2 separate regions of the Homo sapiens genome follow, and region 1 is linked to region 2. The links come from fine-mapping of genetic effects on gene expression. A gene starts in region 2. The other region holds a variant in brackets. All regions are shown on one strand. Distances are from middle to middle. Region 1 overlaps KLK7 (kallikrein related peptidase 7). Region 2 holds the start of KLK11 (kallikrein related peptidase 11).

Region 1 (10,844 bases), 50 kb after region 2:
CCTGGGCCCCAGACCCTCCTCCCTCGGAACCAGGAGCCTGAACAACAGCCCTTCTGGTCCTCGCCCCCATCCTCTCTGACTGACAGCTCTCCCTGCTCCTCCCTGCAGTGACCTTTCCCTCTGACCTCATGTGCGTGGATGTCAAGCTCATCTCCCCCCAGGACTGCACGAAGGTTTACAAGGACTTACTGGAAAATTCCATGCTGTGCGCTGGCATCCCCGACTCCAAGAAAAACGCCTGCAATGTGAGACCCTCCCCCCCAATTCCTCCCCAGTCCTGGGTACCCTGTCTGCATGCCCCAGGGACAGAGCTTGACCCGAGTGACTGGGTACCAAGCCCGGCCTTGCCCTCCCCCCAGGCCTGGCCTCCTCAGCTTTTTCCACCTCATTCTCTGCCTAGGTCAGGGGTGGGAGTTTACTTAGGGGCCAATGTGGCCCTGGGGATGAGACAGAGAGTTTAATAGGGGTGAGAAAGTGGGGGTGGGACCAGGGAAGGAGACTGAGGTGCTGGCCTCAGGCCCAAACCTTAAGGGGGCACCAAAAACCTCAGTGATTGAGATAAATCATAATGCAATATTTAAAAATAAAAATAAAAACTCATGCAGAAGTCCATGATGGACAAAATGTCACATTTTAAATAAAGAGCAGGTGGATCTTACTGAATTTTCCCTTGCCGTAAGTACTAGCGTGGCTCAGCACAGCGCTGTACTGGCACTGTCTTCATTTAAAATGTGGATACCATGCCCATCATGCAGTTTTATGTATTACATTTGATTTCGTTAAGTACTGCATTGAAGTATTGTGTATTGCAGTTACTGAGATTTTGTGCCTGAAGCTGATGACTCACTCACCTGACCCTGGCCCTGGTCCCGGGGAAAACACTCTTTCTCTCCACCTCCTCTCTGTTCCCTCTTTCTGGCCTTTTGTCATCCCCTCTGTTTCTGAACAGTCTTCCCACATCTCTCTTTGTGACATAATTTCATTTCATTCTTTTCCTCTTTGTTTTTTCTCTGTGTTGAGCTAGCTTGCTCTCCCTCCCTTGTTCTCTCTCCATGCCCTCCTCTCTGCTCTCTGTCTTCTCCCTCTTTCTCTTGCTTCTCTCTCTCTCCTCCCCTCCCTCTCTCCTCTCCCTGCCCCCCTGCTCTCTCTTTTTTCCTCTCTCTCTGTCTCCTCTCTGGCCCTCTCCTCTTTCTCTCTCTCCCCCACTTCTCTGTCTCTCTTCATCTCTCTCCCTCATCTCTCCTTGCCCCCTCCTTTTTACTGTCTCTCTCTTTCTCTTTCTTCTATCTCTCTCCTCTCCCTGCCGCTCCCCCATCTCTGTCTTTCTTTCTCTCTCTTTATTCTCCTCCTCTCTTCCAGTCTCTCTCTCCTCTCCCCACCCCCACCCCATCTCTCTCCCCACACCTTCCCCCCCTTTCTCTTTGTCTCTCTCTTCTCCCTCTTTCTTCTCCACCCCCATCTCTCTCTCTCTTCTCTTCCCACACCCTCCCCATCTCCCTCATCTCTTTGTCTGTCTCTCTTCTCCCTCCTTCTTTTCCACCCCCATCTCTCTGTCTCTCTCTCTCCCCATACCCTTTCCCTCTTCCTCATCTCTCTTTGTCTCTCTCTCCTTTCCCTCTTTCTTCTCCACCTCCAACTCTCTCTGTCTCTCCACACCCATCCTCCTTGCTCACATCTGCACCTTCAGCTGTCAGGGGATGTGGGATGGTGAGTGTTAGGGATAGAGGAGATGGGAGAGAGATGACTGTCCTAGAGAATAGGGTGTTCCCCTTCTCCCCTGGTGAGGGCCAGTTTCATGAATGTGCAAGCTCTGCACGGACACAGAGCCCCACACTCAGAAGGGTCTCAAACTTAGTCTAATGCATTCCTGCTGTTGTCTTGAAATTCTCAATAATTTTTGAACAAAGGGCCCTGCATTTTCGTTTTGCACCAAGTCCTGTAAATTATGTAACTGGTCTTCACCCTGGTCTCCGAGACCATCGTGTCCCCCTTTCCTGCGCCACAGGGCACGCATCCACCCCTTGGAGATGATGTTCCTTCTCCCACTAGCTTGGAGCAGGGTCCTTAACATTGGAAAATAAAGAGTGCTCTGATCCTGGAAGCCCCACCCCTTCTCTGCAATTGGTCTCATTGGCCAAGGGTCAAACCAGTGTCTTCAAAGGACCTAGTGTGTCCCTAGCACTAGCTCTCCCATTAGTCCCCAGAGACAATGAGTCTCTTCTCATTGGCTATGGTGGAAGTCCATAATCTGCAAGACAAAGACCGATAACTGAGGAATGTATGAGAATGAGTTGGGCTTTGATCTGAAGCCAAAGTTAATCTCCGGCTCTATTCCCTCTAGGGTGACTCAGGGGGACCGTTGGTGTGCAGAGGTACCCTGCAAGGTCTGGTGTCCTGGGGAACTTTCCCTTGCGGCCAACCCAATGACCCAGGAGTCTACACTCAAGTGTGCAAGTTCACCAAGTGGATAAATGACACCATGAAAAAGCATCGCTAACGCCACACTGAGTTAATTAACTGTGTGCTTCCAACAGAAAATGCACAGGAGTGAGGACGCCGATGACCTATGAAGTCAAATTTGACTTTACCTTTCCTCAAAGATATATTTAAACCAACCTCATGCCCTGTTGATAAACCAATCAAATTGGTAAAGACCTAAAACCAAAACAAATAAAGAAACACAAAACCCTCAGTGCTGGAGAAGAGTCAGTGAGACCAGCACTCTCAAACACTGGAACTGGACGTTCGTACAGTCTTTACGGAAGACACTTGGTCAACGTACACCGAGACCCTTATTCACCACCTTTGACCCAGTAACTCTAATCTTAGGAAGAACCTACTGAAACAAAAAAAATCCAAAATGTAGAACAAGACTTGAATTTACCATGATATTATTTATCACAGAAATGAAGTGAAACCATCAAACATGTTCCAAAAGTACCAGATGGCTTAAATAATAGTCTGGCTTGGCACAACGATGTTTTTTTTCTTTGAGACAGAGTCTCTGTTGCTTGGGCTGCAATGCAGTGATGCAATCTTGGCTCACTGCAACCTCCGCCTCCTGGGTTCAAGTGATTCTCGTGCTTCAGCCTCCCAAGTACCTGGGACTACAGGTGTGCACCACCACACCAGGCTAATTTTTTGTGTATTTTTACTAGAGACAGGGTTTCACCATGTTGGCCAGC[A/G]TGGTCTTGAACGCCTGACCTCAGATGATCCACCCACCTTGGCCTCCCAAAGTGCTGGGATTACAGGCATGAGCCACCACGGCCAGCCCACAATGATATTACAAACCTATTAAAAATGATACTTAGACAGAATTGTCAGTATTATTCAAGAACATTTAGGCTATAGGATGTTAAATGACAAAAGGAAGGACAAAAATATATATGTATGTGACCCTACCCATAAAAAATGAAATATTCACAGAATCAGATCTGAAAACACATGTCCCAGACTGCATACTGGGGTCGTCATGAGGTGTCTCCTTCCTTCTGTGTACTTTTCCTTGAATGTGCACTTTTATAACATGAAAAATAAAGGTGGGGAAAAAAGTCTGAAGATCTAAGATTGGAGAGAGGTGACCTTTCAGGAAGGGAGACTAGAAAGAAATATGTGCCTGGTTTTGAGCCCTGGTCCTGCCGGCCCTGTTCCAGGGCATATTTCCATTTCCCAGATCTCAGTTTTTCCTGTCTGTAAAATGGGAGAGAGAGGAAAGGATGGAGAGAGGAAGAAGGAAGGGAGGAGGGAGGAGAGAACAGGCCAACTTCATCAGCGTGGGAAGGGGTGTGAAAGTGTTTCTGAGCATCTCACGAGTGACAAGTGAGGAGGGAGGCTGGCGGTTTTCAGAGGGATTGGGATGACAGTAGACAGGACACAGGGGTCCCACGGGGGTCTGCCAGAAGTAAGCAAACAGTGCCGGAGGAAGATGGTGGCACCTGCTCCCCAAGAAGGGAGGGAAAGGAACCTCGGGAAGCGGGTAGGATGAGGGAGGAGTCCTCTGTGACTCAGAGCCTGGCCACAGCCCCAGCCATCTAACATCAAAGATCCTCTGTGTGGTCACACCTCAGACGCTGCTGACCGAGGAGCCACTCCAGCCCAGGACACGCCCTCCTACCTGTTCTTCCTGTTTTTCTCCCAGAATTCCCTCCCCACCAAGATCCTCCAGATCCTTCCCCTCCTTATCTCATCTCCCTCTGAGTCTCTCCTAACCCAGGCACCACAGCCCTGTCATATTGCAGAAATTCTGCAGCCGCTAATTCTGATTCTCCCATATAGGAGGCTAACACAGAAAACGCAGGAGTCCAGGCCCCCAGCCCCTCCTCCCTCAGACCCAGGAGTCCAGACCCCCCAGCCCCTCCTCCCTCAGACCCAGGAATCCAGACTCCCCCCAGCCCCTCCTCCCTCAGACCCAGGAGTCCAGAACCCCAGCCCCTCCTCCCTCAGACCCAGGAATCCAGACTCCCCCCAGCCCCTCCTCCCTCAGACCCAGGAGTCCAGACCAGCCCCAGCCCCTCCTCCCTCAGACCCAGGAGTGCAGGCCTGCCCCCACGAGCCCCTCCTCCCTCAGACCCAGGAATCCAGACTCCCCCCAGCCCCTCCTCCCTCAGACCCAGGAGTTCAGAACCCCCCCCACCAGCCCCTCCTCCCTCAGACCCAGGAATCCAGACTCCCTCCAGCCCCTCCTCCCTCAGACCCAGGAGTTCAGACCCCCCTGCCAGCCCCTCCTCCCTCAGACCCAGGAATCCAGACTCCCCCCCAGCCCCTCCTCCCTCAGACCCAGGAGTCCAGACTCCCCCCCAGCCCCTCCTCCCTCAGACCCAGGAGTCTAGACTACCCCCAGCCCCTCCTCCCTCAGACCCAGGAGTTCAGACCCCCCCCCCCGCCAGCCCCTCCTCCCTCAGACCCAGGAGTCCAGACCGCCCCCAGCCCCTCCTTCCTCAGACCCAGGAGTCCAGACTCCCCCCAGCCCCTCCTCCCTCAGACCCAGGAGTTCAGACCGCTCCCCGCCGCCAGCCCCTCCTCCCTCAGACCCAGGAATCCAGACTCCCCCCAGCCCCTCCTCCCTCAGGCCCAGGAGTCCAGATCCCCCCCAGCCCCTCCTTCCTCAGACCCAGGAGTCCAGACCCCCCGCCCCAACCCCTCCTCCCTCAGACCCAGGAGTCCAGGCTCCCCCCCAGCCCCTCCTTCCTCAGACCCAAGAGTCCAGACCCCCCGCCCCAACCCCTCCTCCCTCAGACCCAGGAGCCCAGGTCCCCAGCCCCTTCTGTTTCTGGGCCTGTCAAGTTTAAGAATGTCAAACATTTTCGACCAGTCATTCCCCTGAAGTTTTAGCAACATTTTCTCTCTCTTCTGCAAGGCACTCCAACATTCAATCTGGAATTTTAAAAAGTAACAAAACATTGCATTTGCACTAAGTCAGCCTGGAGATCCCTGGCCCTGGCCCTCTGCTCTCCTATACGCAAGCTACAGGTAGATTGGTTTGCAATGACTGAGATGGTACTAATGTTGATTTTTTTTAAGTAATTCATTTTTCTTTGGGTAAGCAGTATAGTGTGGTAGTTAAGGGACTAGCTCTGGATCTTGGCTTCTTGGGTTCAAATCCCAGTTCTAGTCCCTACAAGCTATTTTCCTTTAAGCTCATTACTTCCCCTGTCCCTGTTCCTTCATCCTTGAAATGGGAGAAAAAGCACCTACTTTCTAGGGTTATTACAGAGATTCAATAAGTTAATATACAGAAAGTGCTCAAACATTGTGTGGCACGAGGTAAGCCTTCCTTCAATGGTCATTGGTTTTAGTTTAGTTTAGTTTAGTTTAGTTTTTCTTTTTTTTTGAGACAAAGTCTTGCTCTTGTCACCCAGGCTGGAGTGCAATGGCGCGATCTCAGCTCACTGCAACCTCTGCCTCCCAGGTTCAAGTGATTCTCCTGCCTCAGCCTCCTGAGTAGCTGGTATTACAGGTGCCTGCCACCATGCCCGGCTAATTTTTGTATTTTCAGTAGAGACCAAGTTTCACCACGTTGGCCAGGCTGTCCTCAAACTCCTGACCTCAGGCAATCTGCCCGCCTTGACCTCCCAAAGTGCTGAGATTACAGGCATGAGCCACCGCGCCTGGCCCAGGCATTGGTTTTTATTGTTTATGACTTCTGGCACTTTTTTCTGCTTACAGTCTCATGAAGTTTCCTTATAATTTTTTTTTTCTTTTTTTCACATAGGGTCTTGCTCTATCATCCAGGCTAGAGTTTGGTGGCATGATCATAGCTCACTGCAGCCTCAGTCTCCTGGGCTCAAACAATCCTTTTGCCTCAGCCTTTCGAGTAGCTGGGACCATGCCTGGGCTGATTTTTTTTTTTTTTTTTAGTAGAGACGGGGTCTCACTATGTTGTCCAGGCTGGTCTCTAATTCCTGAGCTCAAGTAATCCTCCCACCTCAGCCCTCCAAAGTGCTGGGATTACAGGTGTGAACCACTGCACCGAGACAGAAGAATTTATTTAGTGAAGAGTTTTGCAGAGCAAGACAATCTGGAGCAAACTATCCAGTAAATAAGCATTCAAAGTATGCAGAGATGGCAAACCATGAAGGTCACCAGAGAAGAGGTAGAGTTAGAAATTTCTTTCTCTTCAAAGTCCCTCCACTCCCCACAGCCTAACACCTCCCTTCTTTCCCCACCCAGCTCTCAACAATTCCTCCCAAGTTCACTCACCTCGTACTGTCATAAGATAGACCCAGCCAGGCCACCAAGGGATGGGCCACATCCACGCCATGTTGGAAGCTGAGTTCCCATTCAGGCTCCACCATTTCCTGGATGTTTGATGATGAGCAATGAACTTCCCGTTCTGAGCCTCAGTTTTCTTATCTGTAAAATGGGAGTGGGTGTGATAAAGTCATTTAGTCATTTGGTCAGTCTTGCCTAAGGCTTCTTCTGGGCAAGGTCCTGTGTGGTTGCTTGGGACACAGGGATGAGTCAGTCCCGTACCTGCCCTCAAGGAGCTCACGGTCCAGTGGAAGAGATGACGAATGTCAATCCAGGTGGCCCCCCGTCCAGGTTGGGTTGAGGGAGACACCTGCTGTGGGAACCTACGTGAGAGAATGAGTAATCCAACTACAGCAGGTGGCAGCTGGGTGGTGTTCAGGGAAGGTTTCCTGGAGGAGGTAATGTCCAAGTAAAGACTTGAAGGACAGGTTATTGCCAGGAAAAGGTGGGGAAAACATGCTAAGAAGAGAGAATAGGCCAGGCACGGTGGCTCACGCCTGTAATCCCAGCACTTTGGGAGACCGAGGCAGGCAGATCACCTGAGGTCAGGAGTTCATGACCAGCCTGGCCAACATGGTGAAACCCCATCTCTACTAAAAATATAGGCATGGTGGTGTGTGCCTGTAATCCCAGCTACTCGGGAGGCTGAGGCTGGAGAATTGCTTGAACCCAGCAGGCGAAGAGAGATCGCGCCACATCACTCCAGCCTGGGCGACAGAGCGAGACTCCATCTCAAGAAGAAGAGGGAATAGCATTCAGTGAAGGGCCAGAGGCCAGAGGGCATGGCATGGGTCAGGGAAGCTTGATGTGTTCTAGAAAGCTGGAGCCACACGGAGACGTAGACATAGCTGTGTCATGCAGTGTGAGGGCCACTCACCACTCAGGACTCCTTTTAAAAAAATTTTTGACAGGGTCTGGCTCTGTCACACTGAAGTGCAGTGGCGTGATTATGGCTTACTGCAACCTGGGCCTCCAGGCTCAAGCAACTATCCCACCTCAGCCTTCTGCATAGCTGGGACCACAGATGTGTGCCACCACACCTAGGTAATTTTTTTCTTTTCTTTTTTTTGTTTTTTTTTTTAGAGATAGGGTCTCACTATATTGTCCAGGCTGGTCTCGAACTCCTAGGCTCAAGTGATCTTCCCACCTCTGCCTCCCAAAGTGCTTGGATTACAGGCATGAGCCACCTTGCCCAGCCATGTCAGGCTGGGGTGCAGTGGTATAGTCACAGCTCACTGCAGGCTCGACCTCCCAGGCTCAGCAATTCTCCCGCCTCAGCCTCCGGAGTAGCTGGGACTACAAGTGTGCACCACCACATCTGGCTAATTTTTTTACTTTTTGCAGAGATGGTTTCTCACTATGTTGCCCAGGCTGGTCATGAACTTCCGGACTCAAGCTATCTACCCACCTTGGCCTCTCAAAGTGCTGGGATTACAGACATGAGCCACCATGCCTGGCCTTAAATTTATTTTTTAATTGACAAGTAAAAATTGTATATATTTCTGGTGTATAACATCATGTTTGATATATGTATGTATATGTTGTGGAATGGCTAAACCAAGCTATTTAACATATGCATTATTTTACACCCTTATTTTTTGTGGTAAGGACACTTAAAAAATCTTCTGACTTAAAAAAAAAAGTATGGTGATTGGAAAATGTAAATGTGCATGCGTGCTTGGCATCACATTTCATTGGCCAGGACTTCCCTGGATGCTAAAGGTCCTCAAATGCCAGGCTGGGGGGCTGGGACTTGGTCCCAAGGGAGATGGGGACCCAGGGCACGTCTGTGAGAGGAGGGGCAAGGTCAGCACAAGGCACAGGAAGGTCTCTCTGGGGCAAGGGATACAGAGAACAGAGGGATCCTGGTCCAGGTGGGAGAGGTGCAGCTCTGAGTTGGGGTTGAGGGTGTGGGTACAGAGAGGAAGGGACCCCCCAGAGAGAGGAGGCAGAGGGATAGGGCCTGGTCACTGGGTTGTGCAACATCAGACTTGCTGTCTGTGAAGATAGCACGTCCTGAGAAGAAGGTGCTGAGGTCAGTGGGGACCAAATGTGAGAGGGAGCACCCGGAGAGTATACTGAATACCGAAGTAGTCTTCATCCCTGGAGTGATGGGGGGTGCACAATGCAAGATGACAATTAGATTCAATGCAAGACAAAGAAAAGGGTTGGCTGGGAACAGTGGCTCATGCCTATGGTCCCAGCTCCTGGGAAGACTGAGGCGGGAGGGTCGCTTGAGCCCAGGAGGGTTGAGGCTGCCACGAGCAAGGATCGTGCCACTGCACTCCAGCCTAGGCGACAGAACAAGACCTTGTCTCAAAAGAAAAAAGAACTTTTTTTTTTAAGTTACCTGTAGTGCCCAGCCCAAGCAGGTGCTGAGCCAGACTTCATTCCTATCATTGTCCTTATTACGCAGTGACTTCCCCCTCCTCATTTCTCTCCACTCTGCCACGCACACACCCTCACCCTCCAGCCCATACCAACCACCCCAACCACTGCCTGTGGTTTCCCATGTGCACCCAGGCCAGGCATTTTCACGGCCTTTCCTCCTGACCTACGCCTGGCTCAGCTTTCTAGGCCCAAGTTCAAAGACACCTCCCTAAATCTTCCCAGATCCCTCTGCTACTGCCCAGCACCACCATCTTATCACAGCCCCACGTCGTTCCCAAGTGCTCTCCGATTTCTGCTTAACTCCATGCCTCTCGCTGTGTGTCCGCATCTCATCAATAAGTCCTCAAGTCCTCTTCCATCCTGCTAGCTTCCTCATCGCTCGGGAATCATCCCCGCTACTTCCTGGGGAAACTGACTCCCTTCTGGGCACACACAGTGCTACCCCCGGGGAAATCTAAGAAGAGACCCAGGAGAAGATAAGCACGGAGAGTCAGAGAATCAAGGGGAAAGAAAGGGAGAGAGGCCGGGCACAGTGGCTCACACCTGTAATCCAGCACTTTGGGAGGCCAAGGTGGGTGGATCACCTGAGGTCAGGAGTTTGAGACCAGCCTGGCCAACATGGTGAAACCTCTTCCCTACTAAAAATACAAAAAACATTTAGCCGGGCGTGGTGGTGGGTGCCTGTAATCCCAGCTACTTGGGAAGCTGAGGCAGGAGAACTGCTTGAACTCAGGAGGCGGAGGTTGCAGTGAACTGAGATCACACCACTGCACTCCAGCCTGAGTGACAGAGCAAGACTCCGTCAAAAAAAAAGAAAGAAAGAAAGAAAAGAAGGAAGGAAAGAAAGAAGGAAGGAAGGAAGGGAGGAAGGGAGAGAGGAAGGGAGAGAGGAAGGGAGAGAGAGAAAAAAAGAGGGAGAGAGACACAAATACAGAGACTGAGATGGGAGAGAGAGAGAGATGGAAGCTCCCTCCCCTCCATGGCCAGGGAGACAGATGGAGCAAGAGACCTCAGGGGTGGGCAGACTTGGAGGAGAAGGACCAGGAGGATGTGGAGTGCCGAAATCTCCAGTCAGGGCCAGGTGGGCAGTCAGAGACTGCAAAGGAGGACTGTCAGACAGGGACAAAAGGAAGCCATTGATGTAACCGCCCTCCCGCCTGCCCGCCGGAAGAGAGGTTGAGGCCGGAGCTGCTGGGAGCATGGCACTGGGGTGCTGGGGGCGGACAAAGCCCGATTGTTCCTGGGCCCTTTCCCCATCGCGCCTGGGCCTGCTCCCCAGCCCGGGGCAGGGGCGGGGGCCAGTGTGGTGACACACGCTGTAGCTGTCTCCCCGGCTGGCTGGCTCGCTCTCTCCTGGGGACACAGAGGTCGGCAGGCAGCACACAGAGGGACCTACGGGCAGGTGTGTGAGTCACCCCAACCGCACTGAACCTGGGCAGGCTGCTTCCCAGTGCCGGAGGGCTCTAGAGCCCGGAGTGAGGGCCTGCAGGTCCCTGGGTGGCACAGAGAGTGCTGGGGGTGCAGGGAGGCCTGGGGCACCATCTGCTTGCCCCAGAGGCCGGAATTTGTCTTCAGACACTTTCTTTCTCCAAAACCCGGAGGTCTAAGGACTGAGCCGACTAGAACTTCCTCTGCCTCAGATTCAGGCCCCAGCCCCTCCTCCCTCAGACCCAGGAGTTTAGGTCCTAGCCCCTCCTCCCTCA
Region 2 (12,857 bases):
GAGGTTTGGAAGATGCAGAGCTGAGGTTGGAGGTTAAGGTAAAGACAGGGACATGGGGTCAGGAGACAGAAGATATGAGATCAAGCTGGGATCATAAGGTAATAAGACAGAAGGTCAAAGATCACAGTAGCTGGCATTGAAGAGGGTCAGGTCTGGATTCGTTGTCTCTGACGCTGGAGAGACAAGAAAGTTCTTGAGTTATGCCACTCAAAGTCAAATGTCAAAGATCAAAGAGACCGTCAATCATCTGGGGTCATGATTCATATGAAATTAAGTCATAAATATGTAACTTGGAGGTTTCGGGATTGTAGTACAGGTCGGTGAGGGGCAGGGGTATTGACATGGATGGGCCACATCCAGGGAAGAGGGACGTGGCCTCAAAGTGGGGAGATTTAGGGGACCCTGCAGCACGCATGTTCTCTCTCCAGACCCATTCCCGGATCTGCTCCAGTGCCTCAACCTCTCCATCGTCTCCCATGCCACCTGCCATGGTGTGTATCCCGGGAGAATCACGAGCAACATGGTGTGTGCAGGCGGCGTCCCGGGGCAGGATGCCTGCCAGGTGAGCCAGTGCAGGCAGCGTGCGTGGTCACCAGGACAGGAAGTGAAGGGGAGGGGCTGGAAGCAGGAGGGGAACTGATGGAGGATGAATCAGGGAAAGGGGATGCTGCAGAGAGACGGGGTCAAAAAGGAAGGGAGAGGCTGGTTACGGAGGCTCACACCTGTAATCCCAGCACTTTGGGAGGCCGAGGCGGGCGGATCACTTGAGGTCAGGAGTTCAAGACAAGCCTGGCCAACACGGTGAGACTCTGAATCTACTAAAAATACCAGAATTAGCCGGGGGTGGTGGTGCAAGCCTGTGGCCCCAGCTACTTGGAAGGCTGAGGCAGGAGAATCGCTTGATCCCGGGAGGCGGAGGTTGCAGTGAGCTGAGATCACGCCACTGCACTCCAGCCTGGGCGACAGAGCCAGACTCTGTCTCAAAACAAAATAATTAATAATAATAATAATAATAATAATAATAATAATGGAGGAGAGGCCCAGGATAAGGGAGGGAGAGAGACAGGGAGTAAAAGGGAGGACCGGGGAATGGAGGAGGGGGAGGGGCAGGGAGAGAGAGGGAGGAAGGGAACAGAGAAGGAAAGATGGGGCAGGGGTTACAGAGAGAGACAGCAAAACAGACGGAGAGGACTGGGAGCCCAGACAGGGAACCAGCTGTTTCTGGGGCTCTAAGTCTTTCCCATACCATCCTCCAGTTGGTGCTGTCCCAGACTGAGAGAGATTTGAGGATGGCGGTCTCTCCCCTCATTGGTCAGGGCCCCAGCCATTGTCCTTGAGAGAACTCTGTGCTTTTGATGGAGTCCTGCCCACCTTCCCTGGGATTGGTCATTTTTGATGGCACTCTCTCCCCTCATTGGTCAGAACCCCAGGCATTGTCCTTGAGAGAACCTCTATCCTTTATGGAGTCCCACCCTCCTCCCCTGGGATTGGTCATTGATAATAGTGTTCTCTCTCCTCATTGGTCAGGGCCCCAGCCATTGTCCTTGAGAGAATGCTCGACTCTTTATGTTGTCTTGACAGCCTCCCCTGAGATTGGTCATTAATGACTGTGCTCTCTCTCCTCATTGGTCAGGGCCCCAGCCATTGTCCTTGAGAGAACCTCTGTCCTTTATGGAGTTCCACCCTTCTTCCCTGGGATTGGCCCCTAGAGACAGTGGTTCTTCTCTTTTGGTTAGCCATTGCCATTGTCCTCCGGGAAAGTGATTATACTCTTTTGTCTAATGACCAGACTTGGAGCCCTCCCCAAGGCCCAGGACTGGGTTGAAGGGTTGGGGAGGAAAACAGAAATAAGATGTCTCCCTTGTTCAGACAGTACTTCTCTTCCCTTCCAGGGTGATTCTGGGGGCCCCCTGGTGTGTGGGGGAGTCCTTCAAGGTCTGGTGTCCTGGGGGTCTGTGGGGCCCTGTGGACAAGATGGCATCCCTGGAGTCTACACCTATATTTGCAAGTATGTGGACTGGATCCGGATGATCATGAGGAACAACTGACCTGTTTCCTCCACCTCCACCCCCACCCCTTAACTTGGGTACCCCTCTGGCCCTCAGAGCACCAATATCTCCTCCATCACTTCCCCTAGCTCCACTCTTGTTGGCCTGGGAACTTCTTGGAACTTTAACTCCTGCCAGCCCTTCTAAGACCCACGAGCGGGGTGAGAGAAGTGTGCAATAGTCTGGAATAAATATAAATGAAGGAGGGGCCATGTCTGTCCATTTGAAGTCCTCATGCTGGTTGAGACTGGAAGAAGGACTCAGCAGTTTCCCTATCTCATAGGAGTAGAAACAGAGCTCAAATAAGGCCAGGCACAGTGGCTCACACCTGTAATCCCATCACTTTGGGAAGCTGAGGCAGGTGGATCACCTGAGGTCAGGAACTCGGGACCAGCCTGGTCAACATAGTGAAACCCCAACTCTACTAAAAATGCAAAAATTAGCCAGGCATGGTGGCGCATGCCTGTAATCCCAGCTACTCAGGAGGCTGAGACAGGAGAATAGCATGAACCCGTGAGGCAGAGGCTGCAGCGAGCCGAGATTGAACCATTACACTCCAGCCTGGGCGACAGAGCGAGACTCCATCTCAAAAACAAACAAACAAAAAACCCAGTGCTCAAATAGGATGAGGGTCTTCCCTGAGTAGTTACTCAGAAATGGAGTAGAAAAAGTTACTTTTAATAATATAGGCCGGGTGCAGTGGCCCACGCCTGTAATCCCAGCACTTTGGGAGGCCGAGGTGGGAGGATGGCTTGAGCTCAGATTTCGAGATCAGCCTGGCAACACAGTGAAATCTTGTCACTACAAAAACACAAAAAATTAGCTGGGTGTGGTGGTGCGTGCCTGTAGTCCCAGCTACTTGGGAAGCTGAGGTGGGAGGATCACCCGAGCCGGGGAGGTGGAGGCTGCAAAGAGCCGAGATCATGCCACTGCACTCCAGCCTGGGCAATAAAGTGAGACCTTGTCTCAAAAACAAAAACCCAGCAATATAAATAAGACACATGTTTCTTCATCTGGCATAATAGAAATAGTGCCCAGAGCTTATAAGCTTTTCAAGAGTCCACAAAAGACCCGAAAAAGAAAAAGAAAATTGTTAGCTCCAAAATACCAGATGAAAGCTGCAAAGTCAACATTTATGACCATTTAATCCAATGTCCATAAAACGTAGCATTCTTTCCACTAGCCAACTGCAGTTTACTTTCTTGTAATGAAGCATACATTGTATCTTTAATGTGGGACGTGGCTTTGTTCTAATAAGACGAAGGGTGGAGTGCAGGCTTGGAAAGCAGGAGAGCTCAGCCTACGTCTTTAATCCTCCTGCCCACCCCTTGGATTCTGTCTCCACTGGGACTCAAGAGGTGAGGAGAGACCATCTCCCCAAATGCACTGAAGGGAAACTGGAGGAGGGAGGGAGTGAGGGGTGATCATACCAGCGGAGGCACATTTGCTGAGCCCCCCCGCAGTCTGCTCTTTCCAAGTGGACCCTCCTGGAAGCCTGATCCCAACCTCCCCTGCAAGCAGGTCTGTCACCCCCATCTCTCAGATGAAGAAACTGAGCCTTGCAGGGGTGGAGTCCCTTGTCCCCACGTCATAAGGGTAGTCATAGTAGTAGGAAGAGGAAGCACCTAGGTTTGAGGCCAGGGCTGGCTGCTGTCAGAACCTAGGCCCTCCCCTGCCTTGCTCCACACCTGGTCAGGGGAGAGAGGGGAGGAAAGCCAAGGGAAGGGACCTAACTGAAAACAAACAAGCTGGGAGAAGCAGGAATCTGCGCTCGGGTTCCGCAGATGCAGAGGTTGAGGTGGCTGCGGGACTGGAAGTCATCGGGCAGAGGTCTCACAGCAGCCAGTAAGTGAACAGCTGGACTCGGGCTGCCTGGGCGGCAGGGAGAAGCGGGCAGGGGAAGGGTCAGCAGAGGAGCGAGGCCCCAGAGGAGCCCTGGGGTGGAGCACAGCCAAGGGCTCTGTTCCCTTTCCTGGACTCGGCTTCCACAGGCCCTGACCTGCCTCCCCCACCCTCCGGTCCTGCCCCTGTGCCTGGCAGCAGCCCCACCTGTGTGACATCCCAGCACACCCCCCCTCTCCTTGCAAAGGAGAAGGGAGCGGCCTAGGGGAGGCCAGGGGCCCACCTGGGCTGGGGCTGTGGAGAGGGAGTGGCTGGGACGGGAGGAAAAAGAGAGACGGAGATTAGATGGAAGAAGAGGGATTTCAAGACAAATTGCCAGAGATGCAGTCAGAGAGACTGACTGAGAGACACAAAGATAGAAGGAATTAGAGAAAGGGCCACACAGAGCCAGACAGAGAGAGAAGAGTGGAGATGGAGACAGGGACGAGGACAGAGAAAGGCAGACAGACACATAGGGACAGAAAGAGAAAAATCACACAAAGTCAGAATTACTGAATGACAGGGAATGACACATAGAACGAGACACAGATTCAGAGACTCAGGGCAGGGAAAGGAAGGCTGCAGACAGACAGACAGACAGAGGGAGGCTGAGACACAGGGAGAAGAGGGGCTTGGAGAGGTGGCACAGGCAGGCAGCCAGTGCCTCAGAGGCCTCCGGGGAGGGCCCTCACACACACCCCGCCCCGGGGCATTAAGGCAGGGCTTGGAGGCCAGTCATCCTGGGCCCGCCCAGGGCCGCCCCCCTGCCAGCCCGCCTGCCTGGTGCCTGGCACCTGGCGCTCCAACCCAGCCTACCTGCTGTAGCTGCCGCCACTGCCGTCTCCGCCGCCACTGGGCCCCCAGAGCCCCAGCCCCAGAGCCTGTGAGTCCAGGAGGAAAGGGAAGCTGCCCCTCCCCGTCCAGGTGTCAGCCCTCCCCAAGGACACCTGTCCCACTCGGGCACCCATTTCTCCCTCTGCTCTGTCCTTCTCTGCTTGGGTGGGGGTTCCTGGCCTCTCTCTACACCTCTCACCTCCGATGGCTGTCCGCAGCCTCAGTTACCTCTAATCTCCATGGCTTCAGCTGCTGAGCTGGCCCTCTGCTCCCACCCCCGCTGGCCAGGGCAGCGGAGGGCACTGGCCCTCCCCTCGACCAGCCCCGCCCAGCTTTGCTTGGCTGTCCTTCAAAAGGGCAGGGGTTTGGCGGACAGGGCTTCAGCAAGCCGGGTGATGGGGGTCCCAGACATTGTCTGGGGCTGAGCCCCCTACTCCCCTCCAGCAGACCTCAAAGGCTCCATATCGCTCTGCTGCGAAGACAATGAAAAAGGGGTGGCTACGGAACGGTGTCTGGTTCCCCTTGTCCTTCCACCCCAAGCTGCTGGGGCCTGGCCAGCTCTCAAGGCAAGAAGGAAAACATCCTCTGACATGTGCCGGGGAGGTCCCATGGCTGACTTGAACAGGGCCGAACCATGGCTTGACAGCTCAAAGCCCCTCCCAACGACTTCCACATGGTTCTTGGTATCTCGGAAGCTTCTAGCTGTGACCAGGCCCTCTCCAAGGCCACCCTAGACACCTAAGATATATTTTAAGTGTTTGGAGATCTGAGTGCTGTGAGAAACAGGGGATTTCCCCAACCTTGTTTCTCCCAAGTGGGGAGCGGGAGCAGGTGAGGGAGAGAGGAGAGGGCATGAGCCAGCCCCCCCCTCCCGATTTCCCCGTAAAGTGATGCGGCCCCATGTCCCTCCTTGTTCCCAGAGGAACCTGGGGCCCGCTCCTCCCCCCTCCAGGCCATGAGGATTCTGCAGTTAATCCTGCTTGCTCTGGCAACAGGTACGCAGGGGATGGGGGCAGGGCAGGATCCTCCCTCTTGAATCTCTGGGATCCCCTAACCCTCTGTGTCTGGACAGTGACAGGGCTGATTCCAAATTACAGAACAACCCATAAGGCACCTGAACTGGAGCAGTGGTCATGAGGGCCTGGATGCCCTTCTAGATAATCCCTTTAAATGCCAAAGGAGGAGAGGTCAAGGGGGTCGTAAAGGGTCCCGTGGAGGGGCTGAGGAAGCTGGAGTTGGGGGAGCAGTCACTCAAAGCGCCCAGGACAGGGGCTACTGACCAACCAGTATGGAAGTATTTCCTTTTTTTTTTTTCCCAGAGACAAAGTCTTGCTCTATTGTCCAGGCTGGAGTGCCGTGGTGCCAACACGGCTCACTGCAGTCTTGACTTCCCGGGCTTAAGTGATCCTTAAGCCATCTCAGCTTCCCCGGTAGCTGGGACCACAGGCACCTGCCACCAAGCCAGGCTAATTGTTTAATTGTTTGTAGAGATGGGGGAGGAGGTCTCACTATGTTTGCCTAGGCTGATCTAGAACTCCTGGGCTCAAGTAATCCTCCCACCTTAGCCTCTCAAAGTGCTGGGATTACAGGCATGAGCCACTGCATTTGACCTTATGGAAGTATTTTCATCCTTTAATACCCGACCCCAGCATCCAGGGCAACCCAGAGGGACACCAGACCAGGGCCCAGACCACCCACTCTCTTTCTCTCCTCCCCACCCCCATTTCTGGGAGTCCTCCTGGTCTACCACCTCTCCTTCCTGAGCCCCTTCTTTTGCTCTCACCCCCTCCAGGGCTTGTAGGGGGAGAGACCAGGATCATCAAGGGGTTCGAGTGCAAGCCTCACTCCCAGCCCTGGCAGGCAGCCCTGTTCGAGAAGACGCGGCTACTCTGTGGGGCGACGCTCATCGCCCCCAGATGGCTCCTGACAGCAGCCCACTGCCTCAAGCCGTGGGTGCGGGGGCTGGGGCGGTGCCGGGGTGGGGGGCTGGGAATGGGGAGATGGATGGAGAGAAGCTCAGGGATAGGGGTGCTGGTAAGGGGATTAGAGATGGGGATGGGTAGTGTCAGCAAGGTTGATGGGCTCGAGTTGGTATTGAAGGTGGGGGGATGAATGGGGTTGGGATGGGGCTATGGCTGGGAAGGGGGCTTCGGTGGGAGACGTGGAAGAGGTTGGAAGCAGAGCGATGTTTCTTCATCCTCAAAGGTGTCACTCACCTCTCCCACCCATGTCTCCCCCGACCTTTCCTCCTCCAACTACTGTCTCTCCCACCTCAGCCGCTACATAGTTCACCTGGGGCAGCACAACCTCCAGAAGGAGGAGGGCTGTGAGCAGACCCGGACAGCCACTGAGTCCTTCCCCCACCCCGGCTTCAACAACAGCCTCCCCAACAAAGACCACCGCAATGACATCATGCTGGTGAAGATGGCATCGCCAGTCTCCATCACCTGGGCTGTGCGACCCCTCACCCTCTCCTCACGCTGTGTCACTGCTGGCACCAGCTGCCTCATTTCCGGCTGGGGCAGCACGTCCAGCCCCCAGTGTAGGAGCACCAGAGGGGAACCTGGCAGGGGGTGGTGAGGAGGGAGTGGTCAGGATTGTGGAAGGGTTCAGGGCATCAGAGATGCGGTTCACAGTGACGATGTGGGATAAGTTGAGAGGATGTGTGGAAAACGTCAGGATAGGGGGGTGGGGACAAAAGTTGGGGCCTTGGAGTCAGACGGACGGGATATGCAATCATACATCCATAACCTCCTGGTTGTAAGACCTTAGGCAAGCAGCTTCACCTCTCTGAATCTTGATTTTCTTCTCTATAAAATGAGAATGATTATACCCACCTGTCAGGATTGGATTAGAGATAATGTATATCAAGCAACTGACATAAATCATTTATTGGATAGCAGGCTGGGCACCGTGGCTCACGCCTGTAATCCCAGCACTTTGGGAGGCCGAGGTGGGAAGATCACCTGAGGTCAGGACTTTGATACCAGCCTGGCCAACGTGGTGAAATCCCATCTCTACTAAAAATGTGAAAATTAGTTGGGCGTGGTTGTGTGCGCCTGTAATCCCAGCTACTCGGGAGGTTGAGGCAGGAGAATCGCTTAAACTTGGGAGACGGAGGTTGCAGTGAGCCAAGATCACGCCACTGCACTCCAGCCTGGGCAACAGAGCAAGACTCTGTCTCGAAAAAAAAAAAAAAAAAGCTGGATAGCATTGCTGTTGCTATTGTTACAAGAAGAGAGGTGAGTTGGCTGCGTCTAAGGACAGGGATTCCCCCAGGGGCGGGATCACAGCAAGCACTGCATTAGGGGAGGTGGCAGGGGGCTCATTCCCACAGCCCCTCACGCTGTTTCCACAGTACGCCTGCCTCACACCTTGCGATGCGCCAACATCACCATCATTGAGCACCAGAAGTGTGAGAACGCCTACCCCGGCAACATCACAGACACCATGGTGTGTGCCAGCGTGCAGGAAGGGGGCAAGGACTCCTGCCAGGTCAGTGTGGTCTCCAACCACAGCCCCATCCCCATCCCCAGCTTCAATGACATCTTTACCGACATCCACAATTTCATCCCCAACCTCAACCCGCCGACCCCTGCAACTCCCAATCCATCTCTTCCCCTGTTCCCGTTTCTGACCTCAGCACAAACTTCAGCTCCATCCCCGTTTCCACACCATTTCCAGCTCCAACCATCCCCAAACTCGTTTTTGAGCCTAACCCCATCCTTTATCCCACCCATAATCCCAGCTTTATCGCTAAACCTATCACCTTTCCCAGTGCCTACCCATCCTGTCTCGGCCCCACTCCTAAGCACCGTCCCCACCTCCTCCCTGGCTAACACCATGCTCAACGCTTTCTCTGACCGACATTCTCTCTCCCCGTGCCCAGGGTGACTCCGGGGGCCCTCTGGTCTGTAACCAGTCTCTTCAAGGCATTATCTCCTGGGGCCAGGATCCGTGTGCGATCACCCGAAAGCCTGGTGTCTACACGAAAGTCTGCAAATATGTGGACTGGATCCAGGAGACGATGAAGAACAATTAGACTGGACCCACCCACCACAGCCCATCACCCTCCATTTCCACTTGGTGTTTGGTTCCTGTTCACTCTGTTAATAAGAAACCCTAAGCCAAGACCCTCTACGAACATTCTTTGGGCCTCCTGGACTACAGGAGATGCTGTCACTTAATAATCAACCTGGGGTTCGAAATCAGTGAGACCTGGATTCAAATTCTGCCTTGAAATATTGTGACTCTGGGAATGACAACACCTGGTTTGTTCTCTGTTGTATCCCCAGCCCCAAAGACAGCTCCTGGCCATATATCAAGGTTTCAATAAATATTTGCTAAATGAGTGAATCTACTGAGTGCTTACTATGTGCTAGACCCTGATCCAATGGCTTTTATTTTATTTTATTTTTTGACAGAGTCTCGCTCTGTCACCCAGGCTGGAGTACAGTGGTGCTATCTCTGCTCACTGCAACCTCCACCTCCTGGGTTCAAGCAATTCTCCTGCCTCAGCCTCCTGAATAGCTGGGATTACAGGTGCCTACCACCACATCCGGCTAATTTTTGTATTTTTTAGTAGAGATGGGGCTTCACCATGTTGGCCAGGCTGGTCTCGAACTCCTGACCTCAGATGATCTGCCCTCCTTGGCCTCCCAAACTCCTGGGATTACAGACGTGAGCCACCGCGCCCGCCCGGCTTTCATTTATTAATTAAAAGAAATTAAATTAATTAATCTATTTAGGAGACAGTCTTGCTCTGTTGCCCAGGCTGGAGTGCAGTAACAATCACAGCTCACGGCAATCTCAATTTCCTGGGGTCAAGTGATTGTCCTCCCTCAGCCTCCAGAGTAGCTGGGACTACAGGCACATGCCACGAAGCCCAGCTAATTTTTGTATTTTTCGTAGAGACAGAGGTCTCAGTATGTTGCCCCGGCTAGTCTCAAACTCCTGGGCTCAAGCAGTCTGTCCTCCTCAGCCTCCAAAAGTGGTGAGATTACAGGCATGAGTCGCTGTGCCTGGCCTCCAAGCACTTTCAAATGTATCAACTTAATCCTCACAAAACCCTGTGAGGTCGGTACTGTTTTCATACCTATTTTATAGTTGAAGAAACAGACACAGAGAAGCAAAGTCACTTGCTCACAGTCACGTGGCTAGGAGAGCAAGGATCTGAAGCAAGGCGATCTCTTAATTACCAAGTGATGTTCCTGGAGTAAGGCTCTGTTTGTTTCCTTTCCTGTAAAATGCTGCATGCAAAAGTATAACACAGTAAGTAAAGAAGTCAGTTAGCCTGCACATACTAAGACCTAACCAAAGGAGCTTATTGTTTTTCTCCAACTTCCATGATAGGTAATTAGATAGTGGAGACCTCTGCTGGCCAATATGGTAGCCACTAACCGCAGCTGGCTCTTCCAATTAAAATTACATAAAGCCAGAAATGTAACTCCTCTGTCTCACTTGTTATATCTCCAAGGCTGGATAGCCACATGTGACTGGTGGTGGCTGGATTAGCTAGTGCATATAAAACATCACTGCAGAAAGTTCAGCTGAGCAGCACTGAGTTAGATGGCCTCTGAAGAGGATGTCCCACGGAGAGAATCCAGAACTCAGGATCTTTTTTTTTTTTTTTCTTTGCGACAGAGTCTTGCTCTGTCACCCAGGCTGGAGTGCAGTGGCGTGATCTCGGCTCACTGCAACTTCTGCCTCCCAGGTTCAAGCAATTCTCCTGCCTCAGCCTCCCTAGTAGCTGGGACTACAGGCCTGTGCCAACATCCCCAGCTAATTTTTGTGTCTTTTTAGTAGAGATGGGGTTTCACTATGTTGGCCAGGCTGGTCTCGAACTCCTGACCTCGTGATCCGCCCCCCCTTGGCCTCCCAAAGTGCTGGGATTACAGGCGTGAGCCACCGCGCCCGGCCAGCTCAGGATCTTTTGGGATGGTCTGTTCACCTCGCAGAAGTGGCTGGCATGAGCAATAGGAGCCCAGAGTGGAACCAGGGCCTTCTGGTTGTCAAGTGGACTTGCTGTGTGACCTCCTGTGAGTCTCTGCCCTCTCTGAGCCTCTCACTCCTCACCTGAGATGAGGGAGTTGGCTGAGGTGATGCCGATGCCCCTCACAGCTTTGACCTCCTATGATTCAGGGGCCTGTGTGTCACCTGGTGGCACACAGATGGCAGGGAGGGTGTGAGATGGCCACACATGGGTATGAGGCAGAGCCACAGCCCCCCCCAACACGCACATGGGCTAGTCACTGGGACACACACAGAGCTCACTCACGGCCACAGAGTGGGCGTGGGTTTCCCTTTTTCCTTGTTTCTGTTTCTCTTAGCCTCGGCGCCTCCCTCCCTCCCTCTCTCTCTCTCTCTCTCTCTCTCTCTCTCTCTCTCTGGCTCTTTTAGCCTTGGTTTGTTACAATCTCCCTTTTCAAGCCAGCCTCTGTCCCTCCTACTCAACCTGCTTTATCTCTAGGCCTTCCTCCTTCCTCTTCCACAGTCTGGCTTCTCACATTGTCACTCTAGGTATGCACTTCCCATTGATTTCCTCTTGCTCAGTGGCCTCTCATCCTGCCACCCCTAGCCTTGCTGGGGACGTGAACCCTCTCCCCGCGCCTGGGAAGCCTTCTTGGCACCGGGACCCGGAGAATCCCCACGGAAGCCAGTTCCAAAAGGGATGAAAAGGGGGCGTTTCGGGCACTGGGAGAAGCCTGTATTCCAGGGCCCCTCCCAGAGCAGGAATCTGGGACCCAGGAGTGCCAGCCTCACCCACGGTACAATTAGACAGAGGGAAAGGGAGGGAGCCCGGGGGTGGGGGTAGGGGAGGGTGGAGAAGCTTCCGGACTCCTTGGGGTTAAAAGGGAAGGTCCCGCCAGGGGTCCCTGGGCAGAGGATACCAGCGGCAGACCACAGGCAGGGCAGAGGCACGTCTGGGTCCCCTCCCTCCTTCCTATCGGCGACTCCCAGGTGAAGCTACCTGCACCCCACCCGGGTTGGGGTGGATTGCGAGAGGATGGGTGGGGACCCCCGGGCCACAGGCAGGAGCCGGCTTAGAGCCTCGGTTTCTCCACCTGCGGGACGCGGAAGTCCCCCCGCTGTGAGGTTGAGAAAGAGGCTCCCACTGGCTCCGAGCCTCGGATCCCCACCCCGCGCGTGAAGGAGGGGGAAACCTCGGGCGCGGCGTGGCTGCAGCCAGGGTAGCTGGGGCGCGGAGAGCGCTCCACTCGGGCACAGGGAGGACGGGAAGATGCCGCGAGGGGCGTCATTAGGGTAATTGTGCCCATTACCGCTGTTCCAGCCCGAATCTCCCGTCTGCCAGCCCCTGGGGTTATCGGCTGCAGGTCAAAAGGGTGCTTGCGGGCTGGGGTGGCCCAGGCTGGGCGGATGAGCGCGGCGAGGTGGGGGTCTCTAACGGAGCATCTGTTTTAACCCGCCCCTGCACACACCCCAGCAGATCCTGGCCATGAGAGCTCCGCACCTCCACCTCTCCGCCGCCTCTGGCGCCCGGGCTCTGGCGAAGCTGCTGCCGCTGCTGATGGCGCAACTCTGGGGTAAGGTCGGGGGCAGGGGGCGGGGAGAGGCGCCGGTGGGAGGCACGGGCGGGAGGAGAATGTGTTCCCGTCACCAAGCCCCGCGCACCTCTCCTCCCCCGAGACCCCAGCACCCACCCAGCGCTCCGGAGCACGGCCCGCCCCCAAGTCAGCTGGGCCCTTCTTCTGGCTCGGCCCCTGGGTGACCCGCCCCACTCAGGCCCTGTCCGATTTCTGCCACCCGGATCCTCGCTCTTCCGTGGACTCTTCGCCGCGTTCTTTCTCCTCCTCTTACGCCGCCCCATCCCGGCCCCGCTCCATTTTACACTACCGTGTTTTGTTTTGTTTGTTTGTTTGTTTGAGACGGAGTCTCGCTCTGTCGCCCAGGCTGGAGTGCAGTGACGCGATCTCGGCTCACTGCAAGCTCCGCCTCCCGGGTTCACACCATTCTCCTGCCTCAGCCTCCCGAGTAGCTGGGACTACAGGCGCCCGCCACCAAGCCCGGCTAGTTTTTTGTATTTTTAGTAGAGATGGGATTTCACCGTGGTCTCGATCTCCTGGCCTCGTGATC

What was found. PIP is the estimated chance that this variant, and not a neighbour inherited with it, causes the effect.
Region 1: its variant is fine-mapped to the expression of KLK11 in lung (TOPMed, PIP 0.96).

The regions. Positions count from the first base shown.
Region 1 is chr19:50,969,189-50,980,032 of GRCh38, reverse strand. It overlaps KLK7 (kallikrein related peptidase 7), which reads left to right. Exons shown (of 6, transcript NM_005046.4): 5 at 109-245; 6 at 2,342-3,565. The coding sequence ends at 2,497. LOC105372442 (a long non-coding RNA gene) reads right to left here. Exons shown (of 7, transcript XR_007067308.1): 5 at 6,973-7,073; 6 at 6,700-6,852; 7 at 5,307-5,373. It overlaps KLK6 (kallikrein related peptidase 6), which reads left to right and starts at 10,442. Exons shown (of 7, transcript NM_002774.4): 1 at 10,442-10,543. The variant A/G (reference allele first, on the strand shown) is at 3,186.
Region 2 is chr19:51,018,493-51,031,349 of GRCh38, reverse strand. KLK11 (kallikrein related peptidase 11) reads left to right here and starts at 4,734. Exons shown (of 6, transcript NM_001136032.3): 1 at 4,734-4,812; 2 at 5,684-5,758; 3 at 6,556-6,712; 4 at 7,040-7,305; 5 at 8,122-8,258; 6 at 8,653-9,114. The coding sequence starts at 5,719. The coding sequence ends at 8,805. KLK12 (kallikrein related peptidase 12) reads left to right here. Exons shown (of 6, transcript NM_001370125.1): 5 at 429-562; 6 at 1,893-2,256. The coding sequence ends at 2,048. It overlaps KLK10 (kallikrein related peptidase 10), which reads left to right and starts at 11,641. Exons shown (of 6, transcript NM_145888.3): 1 at 11,641-11,723; 2 at 12,211-12,307. The coding sequence starts at 12,220. RefSeq lists a silencer at 1,159-1,390 and enhancers at 3,423-3,979, 4,539-5,096, 5,097-5,655.